Linked DNA regions of Homo sapiens: region 1 is linked to region 2. Evidence: fine-mapped expression QTL. A gene starts in region 2. The other region holds a variant in brackets. All regions are shown on one strand. Distances are between the middles of the regions.

Region 1 (8,000 bases), 150 kb after region 2:
AGGAGTTAAAGACCAGCCTGACCAACACGGTGAAACCCCGTTTCTACTAAAAATACAAAAATTAGCCGGGTGTGGTGGTGCGTGCCTGTAATCCCAGCTACTCAGAAGGCTGAGGCAGGAGAACTGCCTGAACCCAGGAGGTGGAGGTTACCGTGAGCCGAGATCGCACCACTGCACTTCAGCCTCGGTGACAGTGTGAGACTCCGTCAAAAAAGAAAAGAAAAAAAAGAAGAGCGTTCCTTGTCCTCCCTATGTAGACCTCACCCTTCAAATGCTCCTGTGCCACAGTGTACTTTCTCCAGTTTGTGATTATACATTTACCGACAGACGCCTCTCCTCTGCTAGTCTAGAAGTTCCACTAAGACTCTTCTTTTCCTCACAGGTGCATCACCTAACACTATGCTTGGCATGTGGAAGGAATGTTGAACGAACAACATCTTCTCTGATCTAACTTGTTAGCCTAAATGCACCTTATCTGTGCTCTCCAGCCCTTCCAGAACTTATTCATGAACCTGCAATGCACATCTGTTGTTTCTGTCCTTTTAGAAACAAGCCCCTTGGGTTTCCTTCAGGGAACTGCTCTTCTCCCATTGCAGGCAAGTGGTGAGACTGTCGATGGGATTTATGTCCAAAGTGTAGGCACCTGACAAAAGCTAGGTTAGTGGGACAATTTCTTCCCTAAACTCAGCGACACGAGGGAGAAAAATAATGTGCTGAAGAGGGGGACCACTTGTTCCTGCAACCTAGATTCCTGGGGCTGCCCTTCATGTTCTTTCTGAGGGCTCGATGTTTAGCTTCCAATTGGATTCTGTGGGTACCCATGTCCTTCTGGTAAATTCCTTTTTAAAAACAGTTATCCCCAGTCAGTTTTTGTTGCTTTCAATTAAACTATCCTAGCTTACATGTATTTGGGTTCTCATAAAGGGCAGGGCTCACCTCTGCACCCAATATCACATCTGGCACAGAGTTGGTATTCCATAATGTACTGAATGGATGGAAGAGTGGAAAGAGTGACCAAATAAGCAAGGCAGCCTAGTAAGTGCCCTGAGACCTGGAGTCTTTGTCTTCCTCCACCCCTTGCAGTGAGGGGGCAGTGCTGGTGGTAGCAGTGATGGCAGCAGCAGGGGCTTCCTCTCCCTCTCCTTCTCCCTCGCCTGCCATCTTCGACTGCAGTGATTCCCTTGCTCTGGCCCTTCCTGGCTCCCAGCCTATCTGATTACATCACTGTCACCTGCCCACAGCGAGCCTCCTCTGGCTCTTCTTAGGCGCAACTAACTGTCTGCCACACTGTTTATTTAATGCCCTTCACACCTTCTATTTTCTGAGTTTTGCTTTGGGGTTCCCTTTTAAGAACTCCCAGTTTGCCAAGGTAGTTCCCTCCCATCATGTATAAAGGCCTGAAATTTAACCCTCTCCACAAAGACTTCCTGAGTCACCTGAGTCACTGGCGTCTGTCTGCTCCATCTCAACCAAGGTCTTTACCTGACAAGCACTTTACTCTCAGCCCCAGCCTCATAGTCATGTTACTGATTATTCAGTCTGTGTGTGGCCCCTCACAGAGTTCCCTGACTAGCAGGAAAATTTAAGCATCATCTTTAGGAAGTGTAAATGAGAAAAGAAAGCAATCAGGAAGGCATAGGCATTATACTCCAGGAATACAGGAGCAGAGCTTCTCTACTGCTGGGGTTGGGCAAGGTTACAGATCCCAGCGCATCTCCTTTATACAAATGTGTTCTTAGAGTTGCATGTGAATTTGCCTTATACAGAGGAACTGCTATTTTGAGTGTACCAACACTTCAGGGACTATTCACCTCTCGGGTAGTGGCATGAAAGTCTGGGTCTCACCAGCAGCCCAATGATCCCAGATCTGTACAAAGAACAGAACACTCTAGGAATCCCAGGCCAGCCAGGCACAATATGCACTCATATTCCAGCTCTCCTAGCACCTGAAGATACTCTCCTCCCCAGGTATGAAAGCAGAAAGCCAGCAGAAGTGTTTAGTCTGATGGCTTAGGCTTCCTGCTTTGGCCAGGCTGGAAAGCCCAGGATTACAAAAATCACTGACCAAGGAGCACGTGTGTCTCTGCCCAGCTCCAGGTGGGGAGTGACATGGCTGATGCAAATCCCTGACCTTCCCCTCCTGCACGTGCACCAAGTCAGAGCTGTGAATGCACAAAGTGCTTTTTCAGACGTCTTTGAAATTAACCATTAACTCTTCCATTGCCGCCTTAAAGGAATAAGTCAGTCTAGATGTCATAGCAAAAGATTCATATAACTTGTTGGATGAACACTGGAACACTGATGTAAACTCTTAAAAGGTTCAGAAACTGGACATAAACAAAAGGATCCCATGCATTAAAGTGTGAATACATGTAATAATGAAACCTTGTTACATATAAAGCAAAATTAACAGAACTAAAAGAAAATGACACCGTTGGTCTACCATCATAAACCACTGAAAAATCGGGCTCACAAAGTCTGTGAGAATTCAGAAGATTTGAACAGAACAATTACTAAATTTAAACTAACAGACATACAGAGAACCTTACATCCAACAAATGGTGAATGCACATTCCTTTTTTTTTTTTTTGAGGTGGGATCTTGCTATGCTGCCCAGGCTGGATTCAAACTGCTGGGCCCAAGTGATCCTCCCACCTCAGCCCGAGTAACTGGGACTCTAGGTGCGTACCACTGTGCCCGGCCTACAAGACATGTAGGGAGCATTTACAAAACCCGACCAGGCTAAGCATGGTGGCTCATGCCTGTAATTCCAGCATTTTGGGAGGCCAACGCGGGCGGATCACAAGGTCAGGAGTTCAAGACCAGCCTGGCCAATACAGTGAAACCCCGTCTCTACTAAAAATACAAAAATTAGCCAGGTGTGGTGGCACGTGCCTGTAGTCCCAGCTACTTGGGAGGCTGAGGCAGGAGAATCATTTGAACCCGGGAGGTGGAGGCTGCAGTGAGCCGAGATGGCGCCATTGCACTGGGCGACAGAGTGAGACTCTGTCTCAAAAACAAAAACAAAACAAAACAAAAACCAACCAACTGTGAGGCCATAACATAGGGTCAGCCTCCAACTCTTAATTTAAAATTTAAGTATTGAGAAGCTATTGCATGGAATAACATTTTATTGCCGGCAACAAAATACTGTCAGTTATTTCCCTTGAAGTGATAATGCTCACTTTCATTACTGAGAAAATGTCTGCCAAATTCCAAAGTCTGAAAAAACCACAGTCTGTCAATTGTACTTTCAAGTAAAAATTATGTTCCATGAAAAATGTTGCATGAAAAACTCATGGAGCAGAGTGTTGCCCAAGAGGCTGCTGGTCAGTGGCAGGCCAGCCAGGTGGGGACTCCCAGGGGAGCACAGCTCCAGGTGAAGGGCAACACACCTGTTCTCACATATTGGGTAGTATCGCTGCTTATGTGCATTGAATGTAGCCTTTTATGATCTCCAACCAACTCCAGGGTGACTGCTCTAAGAATTCATATACATTTTGCAACAGAGCTTCACGCTATTTTGAAATACCTGATACAAAAAAGTGAGATTAGATTTGAAATCCATTTGTTCTAACTGAAGAAATTTCAACCTTACAATTTTGATTAAGGAAAAGGAAGAACTGTTGGATTTTTAAAATATAATTTCAACTGCTGTAAACATCTGAATAAGTATAAAAATGATTTTATATTTTTGTCAGTTATTTGTGTGAGTTTTTGATGATAACTGAGTATTTTTTAAGAGAGTATCATTAAAAAGCCTTGACAGGAGTTATGTGAAGCCTTCCCAGACAAAACTCCTGAATAAAAATTTATGAACACCGAAACAAGCTCTAGTTTTTAATTAAAAACTTGAAAAGATTTTTATGGTATAGCAATTCAATATTTAATAAATTTCTTAATACTTTGTGTTTCATTTTGCTCATCATAGTTCTTTTTGGTTTGTTTGTTTGTTTGTTTGTTTGACACAGGGTCTCACTCTGTCACCCAGGCTGGAGTGCAGTGGTGCAAACTCGGATCGTCCCACTCTTGACCTCCTGGGCTCAGGTGACCCTCCCATCTCAGCCTCCTGAGTAGTTTGGACTAAAGGCGCAATGCTGCTGGGACTAGAGGTGCAATGCTGCTGGGACTATAGGTGCAATGCCACCACGCCTGGCTAATTTTTTATTTTTTTGTAGAGACAGGTTTCACCATGTTGCCCAGACTGGTCTCAAACTCCTGGGCTCAACTGA[T/C]CCTCCTGCTTTGGCCTCCCAAAGTGCTGGGATTACAGGTGTGAGCCACCATACCTGGCCTGTTCATCACAGTTCTGTAATATTAAAAAAAAAAAAAAATCACAAATGTTTTCACAATGCCCTATGTAGACAACTCCAAGTCCTCTCCTATTTGTCCTAGTATAGCACATAAGTATTACTTCCTACCTACATTCTGACGTGCAGTTGGGAGCACCAGGCTGTGCAGTCACATCCTGTTCCAGGACAAAAGAGAGAGCTTCTTGAAGGTTCCTGAAGCCAGGTGTCCTACTGTAGCCTCACCTTCAGGCTACTGAGCCCCAGAATGGAATTTCAAGGAATACGGTTGTACATGATGAGCCTAACATGCTACTGGCATTTCCGTTGTGAGTGACCCACTTCCTTTTTTCATTGTAATGAACCACCACAAATTCCAATCAGCTGTCACTGTACCTGGCACAAAGAAGATGCTTATTAAATGACTGCTACTGATGACAACCACAAATATTGCCCATGAACACCAATTTAAGGAGCATTATTGAGGTATATAAAGTTTGGTATTTTATGGGATAAAAACATGAACTTGGTTCTATCAGAAATTGCCGTGCTTCGAATTATAATTCACAAAGCCACATAGGCAGGATAGTCCATGAGGCAAGAAAACTCCATTTACCCAGAGAAGCAGCTCTGCTGCCAGATCTTCTTTAAAGTGGTCTTTGGCTCCAATCTCTGGGCTATGATGAATTGCTAAGTACGAAGGGAATGGCAGTAAATGGAATGAGGACCTACCCTAGCCAAAACAGCTCTATCATTTCTTAAGAAATGTCACTGTACAATCTCTAAAAAAAAGTCATGGGGTATATTAAACATATGTAATATATGCCATGGCTTGGGTGGAGGAAGAAGTTGGCAATAGTTCCAAATGGGCTGTCAGGCTTGCAGAATGAAGGGACTGAGAGGAACTACTATTTATTGAGCATCTTCCTTTGTATTCATGCTGTTCTCAGTACTGTCACCTATACAGCCCCATGAGGCAGGTACTATATTTTACAGATGAGGAAAGAGAGGTTTAGACAGGGGAGATATGTTCAAGATCCCCCAATCATGAAGTAGGCTAGCAGGGATGCCGTGGAACCAACCCAGGGCTGATTCTTTCCTTTACGTTATGCCCACAATGACTCTCAGAGGAAACAAGAAAAGCAGACCCTCACATTAGCAGCACAGTTTCCATGACAGCAATGATGTACTATTACCTCCCATCTCCTGCCCCAGGGTGATGTCAGAAGGCCCTGGCCATACCACACATGAATCATGGGAGTCAAAAGAGGCCTGAGAAGGTCTGGCCAAAGTGCAAATAGCTCCCACATCATCTCAAGTCAGGGAAATAAACCACAACATGGGATCAATTAATCAAAGAGAAACTAAAAGGAAAAGCATTTTTCTAAAATAAACACAGAAAAGCCCACTGACCTAGACTAAATTAACTGATTCAGTAAAATAACTTAGAAGTTTACAAACTAAGATCCAATCTCAAATGGGTGTATGTTGGTGTGGGGGAGGTGAGAGGCCTAGTAGGAAGCTTCTGGTAACAGAGTCCCCTGTGACTATCAGGCCTCCATCTGAGCACAGCACAGCTCTTCTCCAACGTGGCATACTGGGGGCCAAGGGAGCATGACATGTCCTTGGCCCCAGGTAAGAGAATCACAGGCTACAGAAGGAGCCCTGGAAGCCCCCTCCCACAGCAGCCAAAAATGTCACTGCACCCATCTATCTCTCTTCTGTCTTGGGAAAATAGCAGATATCTAGGGCTGAGTACTGCAGTGAATTTAATCCTATTCACAGCATCAACTGTGTCCGGGCCATCCCAGGGCATCTTGCACTAAGCTGCAGGAGGATTAGGAGGGACAGCATGTCAAAACAGCTGCTGGTACAGGAAATGGGAAAAAATGGCTCACTCTGCAGTTTGTATCTTAAACTTCATGGAGCTTACCACCTCATGGGATAGATAGGGCATAAATACTCACTGAAATGGTCTGAATGTTGGGTGTCCCCTGTGAATTCATGTGCTGGAACCTGATATCCAATGTGATAGTATTAAGAGGTAGGGCCTTTAGAAGGTAATTAGGTCATGAGGGCTCCACCCCTAGGATGGGATTGATATTTTTATCAGGGAGGGCTGAGGGAGCCTATTTGCCTCTTCTGTCTTGTTAGGACACACACAGAAGGTTCCATCTATGAGGAATGGACCCTTTCCAAACACTGAATCTGCTGATGTCTTGATCTTGGACTTCCCAGCCTTCAGAACTGTGAGCAATAAATTTCTGTTGTTTATAAATTACCCAGTCTAAGGTATTTTTGTTATAGCAGCCCAAAGAGACTACGACAATCACAAAGCAATTATTAAACAAAATAAGAGAGAGCTCTACTCCCCAAACAAAAATAACTTAATTTTTTCCCAGTTATTAAAATAACATATGCTCAATACAAAAATCCAAATCCAAAACACTTATAAAGAATGAAGTAAGAACCATTTGAAACCCCTATTTACCTAGGGCTAACTGCTACAAATATTTTGGTGACTATTTTCCCAGAAATCTCTTTCCATAAATACTGTATATGTATGAACGTACATACATAATTTTACCTACACTTGGCCTTAATATGCATGCTGTTTGTTTGTTTTGTTCACTCAACAATATCCTCGACATCGTCTGTGTCAATAAAAGTAAAACTGCATCATCATTTTAAATGACTGCAGTTACTCCAATGAATGGATATGCCATTATTTATTTGACCTCAAGCACTCCTTAATTAGTGAATATTGTTGTTCCTAATTTTCTATTCTTTAACACCTATTTATTTAACACCTACTTAGCACCTATTATGTGCCAGACGCATTCTAAATACCGGCGATACAGTGATGAACAAAACAGACCAAGTCCTTGGCCAAAATGAAGCCTACATTTTAGTAGGGGAGATTGACAGTGTGCAAGTAAATAAGCAAATAGTTTGAAGGAAGGAGGCATGCTAAGAAAAACTGAAGACATACTTTTTTAGAGAAGGACTGGTTAGAGGAGTGGACTACTTTAGATGAAGTGGTCTGGGAAGACCTTCTGGCGGAGGTGACAGTGGGACAGAGGCCTGAAGACAGCAACGCAAAGCAGGAGGTAAGAACAGTCTAGGAAGTGGGAACAGCAAGCACAAAGACCCTGAGGCAGGAAAGGACCTGACATCCTCAAGGAGCCACAGGCATGCCAATGTAGCGTGAGGGCAGTGGGCTGAAGGCAAATGAACTACAGGGAAATTGGAGAGGTTAAGTAGGACTCAGGAAGGAGGGACAAGTTTGGATTTTATTGTAAATGTACTGTAAGGTCACTGGAGAGGCTTCAGTGGTAACAAGACAGGATCCGATTTAGGTTTCTGGAAGATTACTCTGGCTACAAGGTACAGAAGGCAATAAGTGGCACAGACAGGCCAGTCAGGAGATGTTTCTAGTCTAGGGAAGAGAAGATGGTACCTTGGGCAGTGGTGCTAGAAAGAAGCGGCTAGAGAAGAACACATTGTGAAGACAGGAAAGGGGGAGAGGGTAAAGGAAGAGGAACAATCAGGGTGATTCTAGGTTTGCAGCCTGAACTTTCAGTTGGGTAGATGGGGAAGAAAAAGTGGGAGAGGAACTAGTTTCAGCATACAGCTCCTATATATGTTTCATCAGATTTATATATAAGCATTTACACATAAGTATTTGGTTTCGGGAAGCTGCTATGTGTTTTA
Region 2 (11,480 bases):
AGGGCCAGGCTCGGATTCTGGGCTGGATGCAGCTCACCCATGGGAAGAAGTTCTTGCATAAATTTCCTACCACCTGAGCACCTGTGTCTGCGACCTGTGAGTGGACAGAAGAACAAGTCTGAGGTCCCAGAGGTTTCTAGGTTTGGGGGAAGGAGACAGGGAGGATGTCTTTATGACCACAGCTGAGGCTGGGTTCAAGAGGCCTGGCTCCAATCGGTCAGTTCAAGTAGCCGAGGCAGGGCTGCTGGGACTCCTCTGCTGCTGCTCACACGGAGCTCAGCCCAGACCTGCAATTAGAGCTTTGCTTCAGGAGCAGAGCTGAGAAAATGGGGAGAGTTGCTAAGCAACCAAGGGGCTGCAGCCAATGGGCACCAAGGAGGCTGTGGGTTACCTCACTGGCTCCTTGCTCGCTCATTCGTTCAGAGGAGAAGGGGCATCAATTACCTGCCAAAGCCCTTGAGACTGGCTGGGCGGGTAAACTTGGGTGTATCCAAGGACACCTCACATCACCCACACACTTGCCCTGATCTGTTTCCCTTAGTCACCAACTGTCAGAGCCCACCCAGCACTTGAGCTTCAGGCTGCCAAGAGATCTGGGATTAGGTATCCACCTTAAGCTGGAAAGCCTGGGAAGCCAGGGGATAAGTATCATAATAACTCCCAACACAATAATGAAACCAAATACTGGCAACTGCCGTTTACAGAGTATATAGGAACCATGCTAAAAGCTTCACATTCTCTTATTTAATCCTCATACCGAAACAATCTTTTATTTTTTAAAATCAACCCAATATTTTATTTAAAGTTTCAAAAGGCAGTGATTAAGCACATTATCTATGTGTGTGTGTGTATCATATACATATAAATATATGTATGTATACACACACATATATATATAGGAAACCAACTCCTTTTCAAATTTAGCCACTGAACAACTAGGCCCACTTTCTATTGCATGATTCCAGTTCTACTTCTTATGACCAGTACTAAAAGTAAACAGCCTTAATCCATTTAATAGTAACTATGTTTCTCTTTAAAAAAATGAACAGTTGGCCAGGCATGGTGGCTCATACCTGTAATCCCAGCACTTTGGGAGGCGGAGGCAGATGGATCACCTGAGGTTAGGAGTTCAAGACCAGCCTGACCAACATGGCAAAACCCCGTTTCTACTAAAAATACAAAAATTAGCTGGGCGTGGTGATGCACGCCTGTAATCCCAGCTATTCTGGAGGCTGAGGCAAGAGAATCGCTTGAACCCGGGAGGCGGAGGTTGCAGTGAGCCGAGATTGTGCCACTGCACACCAGCCTGGGTGACAGAGTGAGACTCTGTCTCAAAATAAATAAATAAACAATTACCATTAACTGATCACATAAAGTATAAAGGTAGAACATATACACACAGTTCCCATTTTAAAACATGTAACGTATCAATAACCCAAAGGTACAAATGCATGCTACTGACCATCCCAACCCTAGCAGAGACCACAAAAGAACTCCCATTACTCAAGGAGTCAAAATATTCTCTACCGAACACCAGGGGCAGGACTTGTGCACATTATCCTGTTTAAACCTTTTCAACTCTGTGGGGTTGATATGATCATCCCCATTTTATTGATGAGGAAACGGAGCCTTAGGAATGGCTGATCCAAGATTTCAGATCTAATAAGTGAACCATCTGGGATTCAAACTTAGATGTGACTAATGCCAAGGCTTGAGTCATCAGCCACTCTTCCATGAAGTCTCTTTCAATGGTTTTCCCTTCCAATTCTGCCAAAGGTCCCAAAGCCCCATCTCTGAAATGTCAGCATCAGGACCTCCAGTCTCACTTCTTCTAATCCAGCTCATACCAAAAGTCTCAGTAGGCCATTTTCTCTGCTTATAATCCTTTAATATCTTTATATCGTCTTCAGGATGAAGATCAAAATCTTAAACTTGGCCAAGGTCCTGCATGATCTGGGCCCAGGTCTCCTATACCTCTGGCCCTTAAATCTTGCTGTCTAATCACATCTAATGATTTACAGATCACCAGACCCTCTGGGCTTTCACCCTTCCCTTGCTTGGGCTGGAATGTCCTCCCCATCCATCACTTCCATCTGGCTAACTCTTACACAGCTGGGTTGTCACTTCCTCTGCGAATCCTTTCACAGCCCTCAGACTCAGTGAAAGCCTCCTCTGGGTTCTTCAAGGCCCCTGCGTTCTCCATCAGAGGATTCATCATGTTGATTGTACTTGCCACTCATGTGTCCACTAGACTGTGAGCTCCTGAGACTGAAGCTAAAGCATTTGTCTCTGTGCTCCCAGAGCTCAGCACAGGGCCCAAAACAGGACATGCTCAATGAACATTTGCCAAACACTTCACTACACTCACTTCTTTAGGGCCCTTGAATATATCATGATGCTGCCCACAAGTCTTTGCACATGCTGTGGTTCCTAAAGCCTAGAACAATCCACCTTCCTCCCCCAATCCCTTCCAGCCCCACCCCTCCCAACTCAGGCAACTCCTACTTTCCTCCATTCACAAAATATCAAATGCTACCATGTGCCGAGCACAATGCGACAAAGTAAAATGACAGAGTCCCTGTCCTCACAGAGGTGAGAGAAATCATGTTATGGGCTAAGAAGGAAAAATACTGGGAGCTCTGAGGTAATATAAGAGAGAAGATCAAACTTAGCCTTAAGAATCCATGGAGGACTTCCCTATGGAAATGAAGTTTAAGCTGAGGCAAGGTGTCAAGTATATGTAATGAGCCAGAGGCTGAAAGGAACATGGGACATTCAAGGAATTAAAGAAACTGTGTGAGCGTGTAGAGAGCAAGGAGAGTAGCATGAGATGAGGCCAGTGATGCCATACTGTGCAGCACCATTATGAGTCACATTAAGGATTCTGAGCTTTAACCTAAGAGCATTGAGAAGCCACTGAAAGCTTCTGATCAGAAAGATTAGATCCCCATTTTCAAAAGATCACTGTGGCTGCTGGGACAATGAAGGGTACAAGAGTGAGGACAAGCTCTACAGTAATCTGGGGAGAGAGATGATGACAGCTTGGACTAAGGTGGTAGCAATGGAAATGGAAAAAAATAGATTTGCAATATGGTCAGGAGGGGAACAGCCAGGACTTGGTGACTAGTTGAGAGAAGGAAAAGAGAGTCAAATATTTTAATTGAATAACTGATAATTAGTTGTTTAATGTCTGCCTCCCTGTCTGAACCATGAGGACAGGGACCATGTCTTCTTTGGTTCCTTGCTGTATCTCCAGCATAGGACCAGGTATCAGTACACATTCAATTAATGTTTATTGAACAGATGGATGGATGGATGTGTGGCTGGCCAAAGAGGTTGTCTTCTGGGTGAGTGGGTACTAGCTCACCTCTGGGCATCAGGCTGTGAGATGGCATTCACAATGGCCTCCACACTGCTGTCGAAGAGCTCCGAGTCCTGCAGAGCAGCAAAGGCAGCCTGAATGAGCGCCTCACAGTCCTGCAGCGGCACCTCCAGCTGCACCCAGCTGGAGAAACACTTGAGCACCTTCTGACGCACACAGCTGGGTGAGCTGGGCTGCTGTAGCAGCTGCTCCAGCAGCGGGAAGACAGCCCCACATTCCACCGCCAGGCTGGTCCGCACCAGGCCTTTGCGGTACTGGGGTAGGCGACTGGTCTGGAACTCCTCAGGCAGCACTGTCAGCAGCTCTAACAGGGCTAGGCAGCGGCCCTGCCCATCCACTGGTGAGTCCTCAGCCTGGAAGAGTCGTACCATATCTGCCACAGCACATGGCCAAGCGTCAGGCATCATGCTGAGAGCCAGTGAGGCCAGTGCCACGCACAGCCGAGTCAGTACAATCTTGGAGCCACTGGCAAAGCGGGTGATCTGGGTGAAGAGCTGTGCCTTTAGGCTTTCATACTGGTCAGTGGGGATGTCACTCCAGTAGCGAGAGATCTTGATGTGAAGAGCACTGGCCCCAAAGTACTGGATCTCTGGTACCTTGTCGGGCTGCAGTAGCTGCCAGCTGAAGTGCCAGGCCTGTGGGGAGACCTGGGCCTGCATCAGCCACTTCTGAGCCAGGTTCTTATTCTCAATGTTGGGATCATAGTAGAGCTGGTGCAGCGCCTGCAGGACAGCACAGGACTGAGCAGGTGCTGGCCACTCTGGATCCTGCCAGAGCCCAGAACAGAGGCGTGACTTGGTCCTGCAAGGCTGCTCCCTCTCCCTGACTGGGGGGCTGAGCAGGGAGAGCTCAGCGCTCTGCAGTGTTTCCTGGGCCTGGGGTCCTGCTGATATCTTGAGAGCCTGAACCTTGCCCATGCTCTACCATATCCTCTTCTCCTTACAGCAAAACATTATGGGTTCAGAGAGGGAATCTCCACAGGAAAGCAAAAAAGAGGAGGCTGATCTCCCCAAAGGGGAGGCACTTGAGGGCAAGGCCCAGGTGGAAGGAACAGCTTCACAGGGATGAAGCTAAGTCTGAGAAGGGCATGGAACAGCTTGAGGGGACTTGACCCTCCCAGGCACAGCTGCTCCCATCAACTCCAACAGCTCCTTTCAGCTCCCCCAGGATCATCCCTAGGTCAGTCCAGATGCTGGCACCAAAGCCAGTGTGAAATCAGAGCAGGACTAAGACTTTTGCCAGGCAGCCCTGGGGCAGACATGCTGGAGGAGAGGGTGAGAACACTCCTCAGAGGGCACATGTCCAACCAATTGATCCAGAGAAGCCTTGGCCATAGCTGCAGCCCTGGCAAACACCTAGCTTAGTGCTCTCCACTAGCAGAATCCCCGGGGTCTCAATTCCAACGGGACTTTATGAAGTAAGAAAACAGTGAGATTTATCTCCCAATAGCACATGGAACAGTGCGCCACCATGCCAACACTGCCCTGCTCCAAGGGGCGGAAGAGTATGGCCAGGACCCTGACCCCTAAGCAGGCTCCATCCAAGTAAGCTTAGCTCTATTTGTACCCCTGACAGCCAGTTATGGCCATTGGCCCTTGTTTGGCCCCTCAGGGACGCCAAAGCAGGCAGAAGAGATGCATCCTCATTGTTTGTTATGGCAAACGGGGGTTAAGGATAACAAGTGAACATCATTCCCTGCTTTCAAGTAAGGGAGCCCCATCTCCCCATTCATCCCAGGGTGCATGCATTCCTGCATTTCAAGTTGTAGGGAGCAGATACAGAAAAGAACCAAAGAGGCAGTTCAGAAAGATGGGCTGGGCAGTCGGGGAGCCTGGGAGGGCCATGGCAGGGAGCTATGTGGGCAGGCGAGTAGGGAGGAGCCCTGTAAGGCTCCCAGCAGGGCCAGGACCCTTGGACTCAGCACAAAACAAAGGGAGACAGCCCCAGGCCTGCCTGCTCAGGACTGGTCTGGCTTCCATCCAATAAAGGAAGGACCCTTCTCCAAAGAGTCAAAACAACCCAGATTGTTTTAGTTCCAGATTATTTTCTGAGCCCTTGGCTCAACAAAACCAGGTCCAGGATGGTTTGGCATCAGTATAATTCCAGGAGACTGAGCTGCAGGTCTCCTGGGTTCCCAGTTTCCTACTGCACTGCTCATGCAGTTCCCATGGAGCTGGAACATAGCCAGTCTGGACGGAAGGCTAAGTCACAGCACCCTGAAGGGACCATCCCAAGACCCTAGAGTATCTATCCACAGGGGACCTGCCTGTAAGGAAAGACAAAAATAGCCCATTAGGGCACTGCAATACTGCCTGCCCAGAAAGAGAGCAAATGCCAGGTGCTCTGGGGGCACCATACCAGCGGGCACCCAGCCCAGGCCTGAGCTCTGCCATCAGTGACAGTCCCCAGAACTTCTGCTCTGTCACTGGAGTGCCCACCCCAGAGCCCTCATACCTTCTCCACGTTCTCCACAGTGAAGTCCAAGGCTGGTGCTGCTCCAGCCCCTGCAGCCCCCGGCTGCTCCTCCCGCCGCTCCATCTTTGCTCCCTCCCTGGCAGGGAGGTGGGCCCTGATCTGTCTCCTGCCCCAGCCCCTTGGCTGCTGGCCCCCTGCTAGACCCCGGCTTGGGTGCCCAGGGAGTGGTGGGGTGAGGGGGGGCCCAGGGCGGGCATGGCTGCCGAGGCCTCCCCACCTCGTTTGGGGGTGGGAGGCTTGCCAGAGACCAAAATTGGTGCTCTTAGGAGACCCAATGAAGGGGACTCCGAGGAGGGAGCCGTCAGTGAGGAGCTCTCAGGCGGGGATCCTAGTGGCAGGTAACAGCTCTGTCCCCAGAATCTGTGTGGAGGGAGTCACAGGGGAGGGAGGCCTGCGGGGGAAACCGAGTCCCTGGCTCTTGAGGGGTCACAGGGTCGATGGCCTGTACCCACAACACCCCCGCCTGGGTGAGCTCTCGGCTGCTATGAACAGGTCATGGGGCTGGAGGGTCACGGGAGAGAGAGAGCCCTTCGTGGTTACGGAGGCGTCCAACGAAGCGCGGAGATGCAGCTCCGCTAGTCTAGGGCGAAGAGTCCGTGGAGTTGAGGGGCTGTGGCAGGTCCCTTCCGTTCGGCCTGGCCCGCGCTGTGCTCAACGCCCGGCTACAGCCCCGCTACAGCCGCTGCCTCCGCCCCAGTGACTGACAAGACAAGCCAGGCCGGCCGGGACGGGGCAGGGACCTCGGCAAGGCGCGGGCTGCCCCGAGCGCCTGTCCCCGGCACCTCCAACTCAGGCCCCCACTCCTGCCAGTTCTGGCTCGGCACGGCCCGGTACAGGCCGGCACGGCCCAGCGGAACTGCGCGGAAACTCATTCCGGGTCCTTAGCCCTGTCCTCGCGCCAGCTCGCACTCCCCTGAGCAGGCGGTGGAGCGGCTCGCCGCCCCAGGCCGCGGCCGAGTCTAGGCCCCGCCGCTGTTCACCCTGGGAAATGTAGTCCGTGTTGCGCCTAGCCGGAAGGCGGCGCCCTGCGGAGGAGGCCGGGAGCACGTGGGTTGGGGACCTGCAGAGCCCCGCCTGTCCTCGGCCTACCGCGGCGAGCAGGCATTCCGGGTCAGACCGGCGCGGGGCGCTGCGGCCCAACTCCTTAGTAGGACGACGTGACTCGAGGGGCCGGAGGACGGAGGTGGGAGCCCGGGCTAGAGGGTGGAGGCTGGGGAGGTTGCCTGGTCACTCTGGCGCTCCGCTGCCGGGGGCATCCTCCGGCCCAGCAAAGGTGCAGCCTGGGAAGAAGGCGTCAGCACCACCCAGAGAAGAGGAGAGGGGACTTGGCACGCCTCAGGAAGGAAAAAAGGAAGGCTCTCGGGACCACCCAATAAGCAACCGGGAAACCACATACCATGGACAGTGCTCGGGGAATTTCGTAAGGTTTTTGGAAGTAACTTTATGTGTAACTAGAGTAAGAGTAGCTTACATTTAAGTGCTAGGAGCAGGACTTTGCTTACCTTAGGTTCAGTTTTCTTAATAGCTCTGAGGTGGATATTTTTATTCATCATTTTCAGATGAGATGAGGAAATCGAGCTTGGGGAAAGTTAGGCTTATCTTGCCCCTGGCACACAGACAGGGTGGCAGACCATGCCATAGATCTGGTCTGCCACAGGCCCCGGTAGTTCCTGCCTGTCACCCCTCCAGTTGTATTTTATTGTTTATTAACTCCTGCCAGCTACCCTAGCAGGGAAGAGGAAAAAATTAAAAGTGCAAAGAGCTCCGTAGTTTTGTTCAAATGGAGGAAGCTGGCATTGGAAGCTGGCATTGGCAGCAGCTGCTGAGGCCTGAGAAGGTCCATGAAGGCTTCCCTGAGAAGAGAAACTTGATCTGAGCTTGAAGAATAGAGAGCCTGGGAAGGAGAGGGGCCCATTTAGCTGGTAAGCAAAATCCAGTAGGACTCTAAGTCATTCAGCAAGTCTTCATCAATAAAGAATAGCAAGTAGGCCGGGCGCGGTGGCTCACGCCTGTAATCCCAGCACTATGGGAGGCTGAGGCGGGCGGATCACGAGGTCAGGAGATCGAGACCATCCTGGCTAACACGGTGAAACCCCGTCTCTACTAAAAATACAAAAAATTAGCCGGGCATGGTGGCAGGCACCTGTAGTCCCAGCTATTCGGGAGGCTGAGGCAGGAGAATGGCTTGAACACGGGAGGTGGAGCTTGCAGTGAGCTGAGATCACGCCACTGCACTCCAGCCTGGGCGACAGAGTGAGACTCCGTCTAAAAAAAAAAAAGAAAAGAAAAGAAAGAATAGTAAGTAATTTATATTCATTTTAAGAGAATATATGTGGGGTGGGGAAGGGGAAGGGTATGAGTAACAGAGATGAGGTTGGAAAGACAAGTTGGTGGCAATAGATTCTTGTAGGAGTTTGGACATTATCCTAAGTGCAATATGAAACCATGATGGGGTTTCAAGTGAGCAATGATGATTACATTTGCATTTTAGAAAAATCTGCAACATGAAAGACAAATTGAAGGAAGAAAGAGAGGCAGGAGACATTTGGAAGGAGGAAATAGAAAGCCAAAATAAAGTAACTGATTCCAGGCCTGTGCCTAGGGTGTGAAATACCTTGGGCCTGGTGCTGGCTGGCGGTTTCACTGGTGGAGGTGGTGGTGGGCAGGGGAGATGGTGTTGGGAGTGGGGTTTAAATGCACAAATTCTGGACTTAGTCCTGAGTTCAAAACCTGTTTATGCCTCTTTCTAGCAATGAGACCTTAGCTTCTTCTGAAACTCATTTTAGTTAAGGGGTTTTAGGGGTGGGGGGCTCAGCCCAGAGACCACAACTTAGTCAGTATGTGTTTTCTTCCTGCTTCCCATCCAGGGCTCCTCCTCATCCCTGGAGGTTCCAGGGATCTGGCAGAGAAAGAAGCCCAGTCTCACAGCAATGACTCCTGAACATCCTTTGCAAACACTATTTAGGACAGATGGACTGAAGTAGGCCCTGGGGAGAGTTGGGGGCATTTCCGGAGGCCAGACCAAAGGTGATCTCCAGGAGATTTGGATGTTAGTGCAGGATAGCTCAGAGCCAAGTGGCAGATAAGTCTTTGGGAGCCAGAAGGGCTCTTTCTTCTCTAAGGAACAAGTGTAGACCTATAGGGGCAAGAACCTGTGGCAACCCTGGGAGAGGTCTGCAGATTCAGGAGGGAACATCCCAAAACTCAGCAGAGGAGGAGAGGGAGCTTTTGTTGGTCACCTGGAACCACTACCAATCCATGTTCATGTCAAATTAAATGATCACTTTGAAGTTTTTCAGCCTACCAAAATCATGTGAATTTGGTCTGCAAAACCAGACGACTGCCTGCTTGCAGTTAAGAATTCTCAGCGGGAGGCCGGGCGCAGTGGCTCATGCCACCAGCACTTTGGGAGGCTGAGGTGGGTGGATCACGAGGTCAGGAGTTCGAGACCAGCCTGGCTAACACGGTGAAACCCTGTCTCTACTAAAAATACAAAAGTTAGCCTGGTGTGGTGGCGGGCACCTGTAGTCCCGGCTACTTGGGAAGCTGAGGCAGGAGAATCTCTTGGACCTGGAAGGTGGAGGTTGCAGTGAGCTGAGATCGCGCCATTGCACTCCAGCCTGGGCAACAGAGCGAGACTCTGTCTCAAAAAAAAAAAAAAAAGAAGAAGAAGAAAAAAAAGAATTCTCAGGGGGAGATTATTCCCCTTTCTTAGTACCAAGGTTGGATGTAGGCAGTTTTCTTTGTAGTCCCCTGGTTTGAGGGAGAGAGGTTAGGTCAGACAGGGGCAGGTTTCTTTCTAATTCACCTTCACAGTGTAGGCATACACTGGCCTTTGAGGTCCTGGCCTTATGGAGAAGTTTCTAAATAGACTCCCCATGGTGAGGGGGCCCTGGGCTTTGTCTTTCTCATAAGCCCAGAGACCCCTTGAAAACCAATGATCAGGTTCTCTGGGTTCGGCAACTGCCCTCAAGATGAAAGCCAATGACAGAGCTTTGCTTACCTTTGTAGCTTCTTGCTTTCATTTACTTTTTTGGCCTCAGTGTGTTTCTTACATTTTTGCTAGCTTATGGATGCATTTAATTTTAAAGATAGATAGAGTCTAGTATTTAAAGTTGTTTTCAGGAGGAAGTTTAGCCCAAGTCCTTAGGCCACCATGTTGCAAGAAAACCTAACGGGCAGTTTTCGGTTCTGATGCAGCTTGATTTTTGTGCTGCATCTGGCCCTATTGACCAGTCCCTCAGCTCTTCTGTTTGGTTTTGTTTTTCCCGACACTCTGACTACTCCTTTTTGGTTTCCTTCACTGGCCCATCCCTGTTCCTCCACCTGTTCCTTAAATGTTGGTCCTCCTTAGTCTCCGCTTCTTGTCTTATGCCTCATTATCTCACCACTCCCCTGGCTTCAAGCTGTGACTCCTTGGATTTCTCCAGCCCAGACTGTCCTGGGTTTCAAACCTGCATATTTAGCTGCCTCCTGGCCCTCTGAAGTTGCCACAGGCACCCAAAGTTGAACATGTACAAAACTGAACTCACATTTTCCCCACATCTTACCCCTATCACATGCTAAAATACTACATCCCCTGTGTTCTGTACCAGTCCCCCAAGCTAGACACCTGGAAACCATCTCTCATCCAGCCCTCACCTCTCTTATTGTCCCTCACATCTCTTCTGTCCTTGCACATTTGCTTCTGCCCTAACTCAAGGTACCTGTGCTTGTTGCCTGAACGGCTCTAACTATGGCAGCTCTAGCTGGCACCCACCTTGCCTCTTCCATCCATACTAGACACAGTAGCAAGTGATCCATCTGAAACACATCTCTAACCAAGCCCACTTAAAACCCTTTAGTGGCTCCTTTCAGAGCGAAGGCTGAGCTTCTCGGTATAACATTCAAAGCCCTTTGTGACCTCTCCAGTCTTTTGTCTTGATGAGGACCCTCCCCAAGTCCACCTGAAGTTGCTGGCAATCCTGGGAGCGCACCAGGCTGTTTCACACTTCCCTGTCTTTGTTCATGCTACTTCCTCTGTTGAGAAGGCTCTGTGTCATTCTGGATGCCATCAGGAGAGAGACATCACACAGTCAGCAGGCAGGGAAAGTTCAACATAAGCATTTTGAAGTGTAACAGGGAATTGAAGCTGTGATGAACTGGCTAGTAAGAAGTAAATAAATAAATAAATAAACAAATAAAAATCTAAAGAATATAGGACTAGCAGAGTCTTCAGGCTGAGATGGAGAGCCCAAGGAAGAGGCCCTCACCTCTCCACTCCATTCCTGTCCAGGGCTGAGAACCACACCGTGCAGGACAGGACATGGCCACAATGAACAGTGTACATTTAGAAGTGAGAGGAAATAAAGGCAATCAGCAATAACCAGTTCGGGTTCCATGCCTCTCATCCACCCTATAATCCACCCTGTGCAAACAAACTCATTTTTCAAGACTCAGTTCAAATACCACCTTTTCCACAAAGACTTTTCCTCTTCTGCGTCTATCCAGGAAAAAACTGATTCCTCTTCCTTTGTGATTGTAGAATCTGCCCCCTCCTTGACACACATACCTATAACCTCAGTCATACTTCTACTGGGGTACTTGTTTACCCCTACCTAGGGTTGCCAGAAAAAAATCAGGA

Alleles and levels. Positions count from the first base shown, and alleles are read on the strand shown. Sizes are in standard deviations (SD) of each study's normalised expression.
For the expression in lymphoblastoid cells of the gene that starts at base 6,571 in region 2, allele T in region 1 goes with a higher level than allele C (large effect, 0.84 SD a copy in GENCORD).

Evidence for each region. PIP is the estimated chance that this variant, and not a neighbour inherited with it, causes the effect.
Region 1: its variant is fine-mapped to the expression of IPO13 in lymphoblastoid cells (GENCORD, PIP 0.95).

The regions. Positions count from the first base shown.
Region 1 is chr1:43,797,964-43,805,963 of GRCh38, reverse strand. The region is part of intron 3 of ST3GAL3 (ST3 beta-galactoside alpha-2,3-sialyltransferase 3); the gene reads right to left. Among named protein-coding and RNA genes, the nearest start is that of MIR6079, 37 kb to the left of the region's middle. The variant T/C (reference allele first, on the strand shown) is at 4,233.
Region 2 is chr1:43,942,041-43,953,520 of GRCh38, reverse strand. It overlaps IPO13 (importin 13), which reads right to left and starts at 6,571. Exons shown (of 20, transcript NM_014652.4): 1 at 5,837-6,571; 2 at 3,368-4,104. The coding sequence starts at 5,920. LOC101929609 (a long non-coding RNA gene) reads left to right here and starts at 6,922. Exons shown (of 2, transcript NR_188535.1): 1 at 6,922-7,040; 2 at 8,725-9,166. RefSeq lists a silencer at 6,526-6,775.